Linked DNA regions of Homo sapiens: region 1 is linked to region 2. The links come from fine-mapping of genetic effects on gene expression. A gene starts in region 2. The other region holds a variant in brackets. All regions are shown on one strand. Distances are between the middles of the regions. Region 1 overlaps ABL2 (ABL proto-oncogene 2, non-receptor tyrosine kinase). Region 2 holds the start of TOR3A (torsin family 3 member A).

What was found. PIP is the estimated chance that this variant, and not a neighbour inherited with it, causes the effect. A credible set is the group of variants that fine-mapping cannot tell apart.
Region 1: its variant is the best candidate, but not a certain one, in a credible set for the expression of TOR3A in skeletal muscle (GTEx, PIP 0.59).

The regions. Positions count from the first base shown.
Region 1 is chr1:179,118,599-179,123,971 of GRCh38, forward strand. It overlaps ABL2 (ABL proto-oncogene 2, non-receptor tyrosine kinase), which reads right to left. Exons shown (of 12, transcript NM_007314.4): 5 at 2,997-3,269; 6 at 1,592-1,676; 7 at 1-166. Among named protein-coding and RNA genes, the nearest start is that of TOR3A, 39 kb to the left of the region's middle. The variant G/A (reference allele first, on the strand shown) is at 2,233.
Region 2 is chr1:179,080,022-179,085,394 of GRCh38, forward strand. It overlaps TOR3A (torsin family 3 member A), which reads left to right and starts at 2,049. Exons shown (of 6, transcript NM_022371.4): 1 at 2,049-2,366; 2 at 2,919-3,032. The coding sequence starts at 2,108. RefSeq lists silencers at 2,024-2,313, 2,454-2,623, 3,614-3,673.

The DNA.
Region 1 (5,373 bases), 39 kb after region 2:
TTCTTCTTCTCTAAGTACTCCATTGCAGAAGAAATCTGAGTGGCCATGTAGAGCAGCACAACTGCAGTCACCTCTTCTCGGTTGCATTCTCGGAGGTAATCCAGCAAATTCCCGTATGGCATGTATTCAGTCACAATGTAAAATGGTGGCTCCAAAGTACACACACCTAAAAGTTGAACAATAGTGCTTGTTTTTATTAGTGTACATTCAAACACTCCAAACCACTTTGGCCAAGAATAATTTGACAATTTTTCAGGTCTAGTTCGGCAATAATCTTTTCCCTTCTTACCACCACGTTCTCTGAAATTAATAAGCAAAAACTAAGAAGCTGGTTTATAAGGGAGTCCTTGCTTTCACTGTATTGTTCTCTGGGAATTCATATGCCTCTGAGTATTTGTCTATTTGAGCAAAAGCAGAGTTACCTGTATTAATTCTATAAGGGGCCAAGAAAACCAACATGTCTAGAGTTTTGCACATGGCCCATGATTCTCCTCCTCAACTGCAGGCTAACAATACTTATTCAAAAGTAATAGCAATTGTGCACAAGCTGAAGACTATGTGAGCCCCACCTGCAATACTGCTTTGCAAAATGATTTTCATCATTTCCATAGTCAAGGATTTCACTGATATATGGCAGATTCCTTATAAAAAACCAACAAGAGGCCGGGTGCAGTGGCTCATGCCTGTAATCCTAGCACTTTGGGAGGCTGAGGCAGGCAGATCGCCTGAGCCCAGCAGTTCAAGACTTGACTGTCCAACATAGCAAAACCCTGTCTCTACTACAAAAATTAGCTGGGCGTGGTGATGCACGTTGAGGCACGAGAATAGCTTGAACCTGGGAGGTGGAGGTTGCAGTGAGCCAGGATCATGCCACTGCACTCCAGCCAGGGTGACAGAGCAAGACTCTGTATTTAAAAAACAAACAAAAAAAAACACCCCCCACACCCCCCCAAAAAAAAGAAAAAAAAAAAAACCTGGCCCTATTTTAAAAAAGGAAAAAGGCTTAGTAAGAGAGTTCTTTGTGACCTGAACAGTGAAAAGCCAATCTAACATAATAAAGCATTTCCTGCTTGTAAAGGTAAACTGAGGGGTGTGGTCACAGTTTTTAATTTGCTTCTTTTCAACAGTCCTTTGTTTAATGTCTCTTTATTTTGCAAAAACATTTCATGAGTTTTTGGTTCAGTACCATTTTGAACACTTCTGAACTTTGAATCTGGGGCAATTAGTACAAACTGAGCAGTTTTATACACCAAAATCAATCCAGGCCACTGTTTCTTGGGCTATTTTTAAACACAGAACCTACTGATTAAAATAACTATTTATTGAAGTGGATTCAAACCTGCAGCTTCCACCATGGTGACTAAAAAGAAAGGTTTGGGGGAGGAAAAAAGGCGGGGCATGGTGGCTCATGCCTGTAATCCCAACATATTGAAAGGCCCAGGCGGAAGTATCACGTCAACAGCAGCCTGGACAACAGAGCGAGACCCTGTCTCTATATTTAAAAAGAAAAAAAAAAAGCATTTGGAGATAACAAGGGGTTAAAGGGCAAGCATTTTTGGAGGAAATCTATGGTTCAGGCAAGGTTCCTCACCTAAAAGTTGTACCAGATTAGGATGCTTGATTTCCTTCATTACTGCAGCTTCTTTCAGGAATTCTTCTACCTCCATGGTATCTTCCTAGAAAAAGGGAAAGGTAAGAAAGAAGAAAACGAGAGGGACAAACCCTCAACTTAAAATCATTTCATTCATCTCACAATCATAAAGCTTCAGCTTTAAAAGTAAAAACTATCTTTTGAATATTTTAGCATATTACAAGATATAATTATTATTTTAATTTAATTTATTTTTTTGAGACACGGTCTCGCTCTGTTACCCAGGTTGGGGTGAAGTGGTGTGATCTCACTGCAACCTCCGCTTCCTGGGCTCAAGCGATTCTCCTGGCTCAGCCTCCCAAGTAGCTGGGATTACAGGCATGCACGACCATGCCTGGCTACTTTTTGTATTTTTAGTAGAGACGGGGTTTTGCAATGTTGGCCAGGATGCTCTCCTGACCTCAGGTGATTCGCCCACCTGAGCTCCCCAAATTGCTGGGATTACAGGTGTGAGCCACCACGCCCAGCTGAAATAATTATTATTTTAAGAAGTCCAACTTAGAAAGAAAAATGCCCTGGAGTAAAAATTAGCAGGAGGAGCAAAATTCAGCAATCGTGTCCTATAATCAACTGAAACACAG[G/A]AGCCCTGTATTGGATAGTTCAGTTCTCTCATAGTTTACTTCTCCAGATATCTCAGGCTTTGAATGACGAGACAGAGCACTTAGCTGCTTACATACTTATCTTCTTGCTTAGATCATAATCTTCTTAGAGAGCAAGGCCTTATATATTGCTTCACACTCAGAATATGCTTAAGAAACAGAACTGACTACTACTTAATAGCTAAAGAATAGCCCTTATAAGTGATACACCAGAGACAGTTACTGAGGCTCTGGGAGAATCAAGTGAGTGAAAACCTTATAATTTGATACTGGGATGTTTAAAGGAGACATATAGTAGTACTACGAAAAAGATTTCTGTTAATATTAAGAAGTGATCTAACTGCAAAGAGACAGGAGGAACAAGAACAAGGGAGAGAAAGGACAGAACAAGAAAGAGGCCCATGACTCTCAGACAAGAATTCTGTCCAGCAGGGGTCGTTCTCAGGAAGCAAAAGAGCTTATTTTGCTTTTATAACTTTTAATTTGCTTCTAACCTCCCACTAAGATCTACATCAACAGCCTCCAGAGACAGACCTTTCCCACATGTGGGTTTCACTGCATTGCAGTGAATAATCTACCTCTGCATTGTCAGCAATGGCACTAGGGTTAATCATCTCAATTTGCTGATGTGCTTGGCACTAGTGGGTGGAAAGTGTTCCAAAGTTAAAGAAGGGCATGCTGATATTTCCAAGTGATTGAGCACAAAAGAAAAAGATGCCTGAAAACTGTAATTCTCAGCAACCCACCTTCAATGTTTTCACAGCAACTGTAAGGCTGTATTTCTTCCAGACGCCAACGTAAACCTCTCCATACTGACCGCCCCCAAGTTTGTGCTTCATGGTAATATCTGTTCGCTCCATTTCCCATTTGTCGTGGATGGGGGACACACCATAGACTGTAGGCTTATTACACTTGGGTGCTGGGTAGTGTAATGTTGTCACCAGCCCATCAGCCACTGTGGAGTGATGGTGTACAAGCTCTGCCAAGGTGCTGAAGCGGCTCTCAGCAGTCACATACACCTGGTAAGAAAAGGAGAAAAGCTAAACAACTTGAAAAGAGATTAAGAATTTTTTTTTTTTTTTTTTTTTTTTTTTTGAGATGGAGTCTTGTTCTGTCACCCAGGCTGGAGTGCACTGGCGCGATCTCGGCTCACTGCAAGCTCCGCCTCCCGGGTTCACGCCATTCTCCTGCCTCAGCCTCTCTGAGTAGGTGGGACTATAGGCGCCCGCCACCATGCCCGGCTAATTTTTTGTATTTTTAGTAGAGATGGGGTTTCACCGTGTTCTTGATCTCCTGACCTCGTGATCTGCCGGCCTCAGCCTCCCAAAGTGCTGGGATTACAAGCATGAGCCACCGCTCCCGGCCTAGGAATTCTTTTTTAAAGCCCATATTTCACTGGCCTGAAGATATAGATAGAAGGCTATCTTTAAAAAAAAAAAAAAAAAAAAAAATATTCTGCAGACAGGGTCTCACTATTGCCCAGGCAGGTCTCAAACGCCAGCCTCAAGCAATCCTCCTGCCTGGGCCTCCCAAGGTGCTGAGATTACAGACTGGGCCAGTATACCCAGCAAGAGTTTATCTTAATTGAGGTAAATAAAAAAGTTAAATGATGATTGCAAGGGTAAACACAGAACTTCAGTTTAATCTTATTTAATCTGCCTTTCCTATTCTTCCTAAATTAGTCTTGGGAAAAACCTTCCAAGATCTCTCTCTGGATAATCAAGCTCATTGGTCTTCAAATATATATATATTTTCAAATATATATATACTCAAATTATGTATTTTTTCAAATATATATTTCTTTTTCTTTTTTTCTTTTTTTTGAGACAGAGTCTCACTCTGTTGCCCAGGCTGGAGTGCAGTGTCATGACCTCAGCTCACTGCAACCTCCGCCTCCTGGGTTCAAGTGATTCTCCTGCCTCAGCCTCCCAAGTACCTGGGATTACAGGCATGCGCCATCACGCCTGGCTAATTTTTTTCTTTGTATTTTTAGTAGAGATGGGGTTTCACCATGTTAGCCAGGCTGGTCAGGAACTCCTAACCTCAAGTGATCTGCCTGCCTCAGTCTCCCAAATTGCTGGGATTACAGGTGTGAACTACCACGCCCGGCCAGTCTTCAAATATTTTTAAGCCACAAGACTATGGACTCAACTACAGAAGATACGTAAAGAAGAGATACCCTGATCAAAGTAGGCAAGCAAGGACTTGGCCTCTTGTAGAAATTTACAAAATATCACCTTAATCTTGTAAAAAACATAACTTGAAAACCACTGATTTAGATTTTTTTGGTAAGAGTATTCAAATATCTCATAATTTTAATTATGACGTGCAGTTGAGTGTCTAGGCCATTAAAGAAAGAGCCACAATTTACCGGTGGCCAGGAGCAGTGGCTCACACCTGCAATCCCAGCACTTTGGGAGGCTGAGGTGGGCAGGTCACTTGAGGTCAAGAGTTGAGACCAGCTTGGCCATCATGGTGAAACCTCCTCTCTACTAAAAATACAAAAATTAGCCAGGCTTGGTGGTGCGTGCCTGCAGTCCCAGCTACTTGGGAGGCTGAGGTGGGAGGATTGCTTGAACCTGGGAGGTGGAGGTTGCAGTGAGCTGAGATCACGCCACTGCATTCTAGAGTGGGTGACAGAGCAAGACTCCATCTAAAAAAAAGAAAAGAGCCACACTGGATTTCACAGAATTGCTTACAAAATAGTTGTTAATTTGCTAAGCAATAAGAAATGTAAAGTAAGAGGGAATTCTCTGGACTTCTCTCCCAAGGGAGCCTTAATTTTTATGTATTTTTGAGAAATAAGGGTCTCACTCGGTTGCCCGGCCTGGAGTGCAGTGACACAATCATGACTCACTGCAGCCTTGACCTCCCAGGTTCAGGTGATCCTCCTGCCTCAGCTTCCCGAGTAGCTAGGACCACAGACATATGCCACCATGCCCAGCTAATTTTTAAAATTTTTTGTAGAGATGAGGTTTCACTATATTCCTCAAGCTGGTCTTGAACTCCTGGGCTCAAGTGATCTACCCTCCTTGGCCTCCCCAAGTGTTGGGATTACAGGCATAGGCCACCATGCCTAGCCTGTTATTTATTTTTTTTAAAGACGCTTTTGGTCGGGCGCAG
Region 2 (5,373 bases):
TTAAAACTTGGATTGTTTTAATAAACTATTGTTACTATTAATTTTTTCACCATAAATTCACTTATAAACCACCAGTATTAACTAAAGCCATCCTTGCCTCCTGTGTAGACCACCCAGAGCCTCCTCCATGGCTGGGTAGATACAAAAATAAAACTGGCCACGTATTGAGTGTTGATGATGTGCTCATTGAATGAGCTCATTTAATCTTCACAGCAGCCCTATGAGGGGACTATTTTATTATCCCTTTTTATAGGTGAGGAAACAGGCATGGGACGGTTCAGTAACATCCATGGTTGCACAAATAGAAAATGGTAATCACTATATTAGACTGCCATTCAGACTCAAACGACATTTGTTGAGTGAGTTAATTTTTTTTCTTTTCTCTTTTTTCTTTTTTTTTTTTTTTTGAGATGGAGCCCTGCTCTGTCACCCAGGCTGGAGTGCAGTGGTACCATCTTGGCTCACTGCAACCTCTGCCCCCTGGGTTCAAGCCATTCTCCTGCCTCAGCCTCCTGAGTAGCTGGGATTACAGATGCGCACCATCACACTCAGCTAATTTTTGGATTTTTAGTAGAGACTGGGTTTCACCATGTTGGCCAGGCTGGTCTCGAACTCCTGATCTCAGGTGATCCGCCCGCCTCGGCCTTCTAAAGTGCTAGGATTACAGGCGTGAGCCACCACACCCTGCCTAATTTTTTTTGGTTTTCCAATAAGCACTGTGGTGTATGTGCTGTTAACTGTCTCCGGTGGACTCCGCAAGCTCGATGTACACAGTGCTGGGCTGGTGCCATGGCTGCTACTCTATGAAAAGTTTTTGACATCACACTGAATGGCTGAGACACTATAAACATTTTACTTTTCAACTCAACCTCGTGTCCTAGCAAAGGTGCTTTATCTAGTTTCTGTAGCTGTTCGAATGAAAGGCACAAATTTGGTGAGCTGCTGAGAATGGAGCAGACCTGGCACGGTGTGATCTAAGAGACTGGGGTGAACAGATGAATCAAGTTGCCTGTGACATTTGTGAGACACGGTGCTAGTATTCACCTTACTGTCTGGAGGGCCCAACCTCAAAGCCACTAAACATATGACATTAGCCAAGTCCTCTGATCTCTCTAGACAGCAGTTTTCTCCTAAGACAAGACGGCTTTTTGGCTTGGCTGAAGTAAGCCAGGTGATTTTAAACAATGCATTAAGCTCTTCTGAAATCTAACAGCCTTGTTCCATGCTCCTCGCTATGGAGAAGAGAGCGCTGAGGGAAAGAGGCCCTGTAGTCTTTTGCCAATGGTGTCGGATGGGCTGCTCAGTCCCAGCACTTGAAAGTTGCAAACCTAGTCAAGAAAGTGCACACAGTACTTCGGATTTTTATGAGATATAATTACATTGACATGACGCCTCATGATTTACCCATGACTCGGGGGGTTTCCAAACTCCAAACACCTCCAGACTGGAGCCCGTCAATCAGCTTCCTCTTGCTTTTCGTGGACTCCCACTGTGGAAACCTGCTGGTGTTTTGCTGCGGTTTCATTTCCCTCTGCGGAGGAGCCAGGGCAACCTTGGCCAGACAGGCACCTAGCTGTGCCCTTCTTTCCAGGGCCTCTTCTCCACTCAGCTGACTCCCCTGGCCTGCCTAACGCTCCTGACTGAGACGGTTTTCCGGCTTCCTCTAACAGGTTGGCGGGAAGTTGATCTGCAAACGCGAGGCAAAGCAGGAGTGTCCTTATTCGGTAGGCCTCTGATGGGCCACCAGAGCCGTCCGAAAGTCCTAGCGGAGTGATTGACAGTGGCCATTTCAAAGCCTGAGTTCACCTTCTTTGCAACCACAATCACGACCCAGAATAAACTGCTTCCTGGAAGCCGGCTAGTTGCACCTGGCCTGAAGTCAGTCTCGGGACTGCCTCTCAGGACCCCAGACAGGGTTTCGGGTTCCCGCCTGGGTCACGTGTACGGAGGCTGCCAGTGCGCACTCAGCCCGGCCCGCCGGTCGCCACAGCAACACCAATCCCGGGTTCAAGCCCGCCTAGGAAGTGCGGTCCCCGCCTGACCGCCCCGGGCTTAAGGGAGCCTGGCTAGGCCGGCAGCCGGATGGTCCCGCAGCTCGGGGCCGGCCATGCTTCGCGGTCCGTGGCGCCAGCTTTGGCTCTTTTTCCTGCTGCTGCTCCCGGGCGCGCCTGAGCCCCGCGGCGCCTCCAGGCCGTGGGAGGGAACCGACGAGCCGGGCTCGGCCTGGGCCTGGCCGGGCTTCCAGCGCCTGCAGGAGCAGCTCAGGGCGGCGGGTGCCCTCTCCAAGCGGTACTGGACGCTCTTCAGCTGCCAGGTGTGGCCCGACGACTGTGACGAGGACGAGGAGGCAGCCACGGGGCCCCTGGGTAAGACCCCGTCCCCACGGTCCGCCGTTCGCTGCGGAGCAGAGTGCGATCCGGGCGCGGCTGTGGTCGCCTCGCTCCTGTCCGGGGCGACATCTGGGCCCGCAGTCCTGCTCTGCTCAGCCGCCGGTACCGGCTGTGGGCGGGGGCAGCCTCCGCGGAGCAGGGAGCCCCATCACCGCCCTTGCCCCACCCGCGTCCCCTGCGCACCCCCCTGGCGCCCGGCTTCCCGTCCCCCGCCTCCCCTGATCCCTGCGCTTTCCAGATTCTCTCGCACCGCCTGTGCCATCTCCCAGCCCACCCTGGCGTTATTCGAAGGTGTTGCTCTTGACAGCTCTAGGGAACGTCCGCTGTGGACATGCCTGGTGACTGCCGTCTCCCTTGCTGCTTTTGGACGCAGGGCTTGAGGACCGACAGTGGGCCGAGTCGGGGCTGGGAGTTAGAATCTGAGTTCTGGGTGTCCCTCTGTCCCTGACAAGTTGTGTGGCAAGGTTGCCGCATCACTGTAGAGCACCGGATGGTCTCCTCTCGGTCTCACAGCTCCTCCTTTTCCAGGCTGGCGCCTTCCTCTGTTGGGCCAGCGGTACCTGGACCTCCTGACCACGTGGTACTGCAGCTTCAAAGACTGCTGCCCTAGAGGGGATTGCAGAATCTCCAACAACTTTACAGGTTGGACCCCGCATGGCTTCAAGGGGCTAGGGATCTGTGGGGAGGGGAGGCAGTCCAGGGGAAATGGTTAGATGCAAGGGACCTTTCGTCATCCTGCCCAGCCTCCCGACAAGCAGGAACTGCCACAGTCTGACTGAAGTTTTGAGGGAGTACCAAATGCTTGAGTCAGGGAAGCCCCTTTTTAGCCTCTAGCTTAATAGCCCAGGCAAACTGAGCTGTTTGTCAGGCCCAGAGCACCTTGTTTCACTCTAAACAGAAACAGCTACCTCTCAGAGGGGGCTGGAACTATCCAGAGAGAACTGATCAGAAATTCTGGGTTGTGATTAAAAGTGTCCCTTTCTTTTCTTTTTTTTTTTTGAGACGGAGGCTTGCTCTGTCACCCACACTGGAGTGCAGTGGTGCGATCTCAGCTCACTGCACCCTCCGCCTCCTGGGTTCAAGCAATTTTCCTGCCTCAGCCTCCCGAGTAGCTGGGATTACAGGTGCCTGCCACCACGTCCGGCTAATTTCTGTATTTTTAGTAGAGGCGGGGGGGGGGGGGGGGGGCGGGTTTCACCATGTTGGCCAGGCCGGTCTCGAACTCCTGACCTTGTGATTTGCCTGCCTTGGCCTCCAAGAGTGCTGTGATTACAGGCGTGAGCCACTGTGCCATGGCAACCAGTATTTTCTAATTAGTTTGGGTTGCTTGATTTGCATATCGCAGTTGATTTGCATTTTCACTCTCACAAGGTGATCTTTGGCCCCATGTTCTGAAACCTGTTCAGACATTTGCAAAAGCTTCCTCTCTTTTCCCCAGGAGCAATTTCTTGCCCAGAGTTCTCCTGATCCCAGGTCCTTCAATCTCCATAAATGAGGCCCACCCCAGATATTTAGGTCACTTAATTGGCCAAAATGCCAATAACACAGTGTGTTTAGGGACACAGTCTGGCTCAGGACAGAAGATAGGACTACATACAGGTCAGGAAGTCTTAATTTGGATCACTGCTGACTTGGATAAGACCCTAGGTAGCAATTAGCAAGTTACTTTCTGTCCTCAACATGCCTTTTGTTCGACAAGGGCCTGGATATCCAAATTGTTCTGGCCAGCGGATTGGAGACCCCTCCTAGTCGTGCCTCTTCCTTGCTGGCAAACTGAAGAGTCCTTCCCAAGTGTCCGTTTCCTCAGCTGTATTTTATTTTATTTTTTTTACTTATTTATTTTGAGACCAAGTCAGTCTCTGTCACCTAGGCTGGAGCAATCTCGTCTCACTGCAAACTCTGCCTCCCAGGTTCAAGCGATTCTCTTCCCTCAGCCTCCCGAGTGGCTGGGATTATAGGTGCCCACCACCATGCCCAGCTAATTTTTGTATTTTTAGTAGAGAGGGGGTTCACCATGTTGGCTAGGCTGGTCTCGAACTCCTGACCTCGTGATCCGCCCGCCTCAGCCTCCCCAAGTGCTGGGATTACAGGCGGGAACCACCTCGCCCAGCCAGTTTCCTCAGCTTTAAATGGGAATAATAATGCCTGCCTTGCAGAATTGTGAAGACCAAATGTAAAACACTTAGCCCAGTTCTGAATACAGAGAAAAAAGCAGCAAATGTTAATTTTCTTCTATGTCACTACTACTTTTGGAGCAATGTGTGATGCCCTCAATGTTTTATCATAGACCTTGACCTCCCAAGGCTCCAGAATACCTGCTCTGGGCTGGCTTAAGGTGTTCAACCAATTGATCCTGGATTTGGAATGCTCACCCACAGCTGGCCGCACACCCTGCCTGTCTGCACTGTGGCTCCTGGTAGCGCCATCTCCAAATCCTACAACCTCACGTCTGACAGGAGGAAGTTAGACCTAGCAGAAGGCTTTGCACACTGGAGCTGCTCTCACCAAGTGTTGGCTGAATTGAATGAGAATGAATAAAATCAGGCTTCTCCATAAAACAGGGAGCCCTGAAACCAAGGGATGGGAGCAGCCTCAGGACATGGGGGACAGGGTTCCTCCCTAGACAGGTCTGTGCCAACTGTTCTGGGTATCTGCAGGATCTTTAGGAAGGGTGATTCCACTCTCCCTGAGTCCCATCTTGATTTCCCAAACTCTTCAAAAAGTAGTCCTTGAGGCTGGGCGCAATGGCTCACGCCTGTAATCCCAGCACTTTGGGAGGCCGAGGTGGGCGGATCTCGAGGTCAGGAGTTCAAGACCAGCCTAGCCAACCTGGTGAAACCCGTCTCTACTAAAAATACAAAAATTAGCTGGGTATGGTGGTGGGCACCTGTAATCCCAGCCACTCGGGAGGCTGAGGCAGGAGAATCGCTTGAACCAGGGAGGCGGAGGTTGCAGTGAGCTGAGATTGCGCCACTGCACTCCA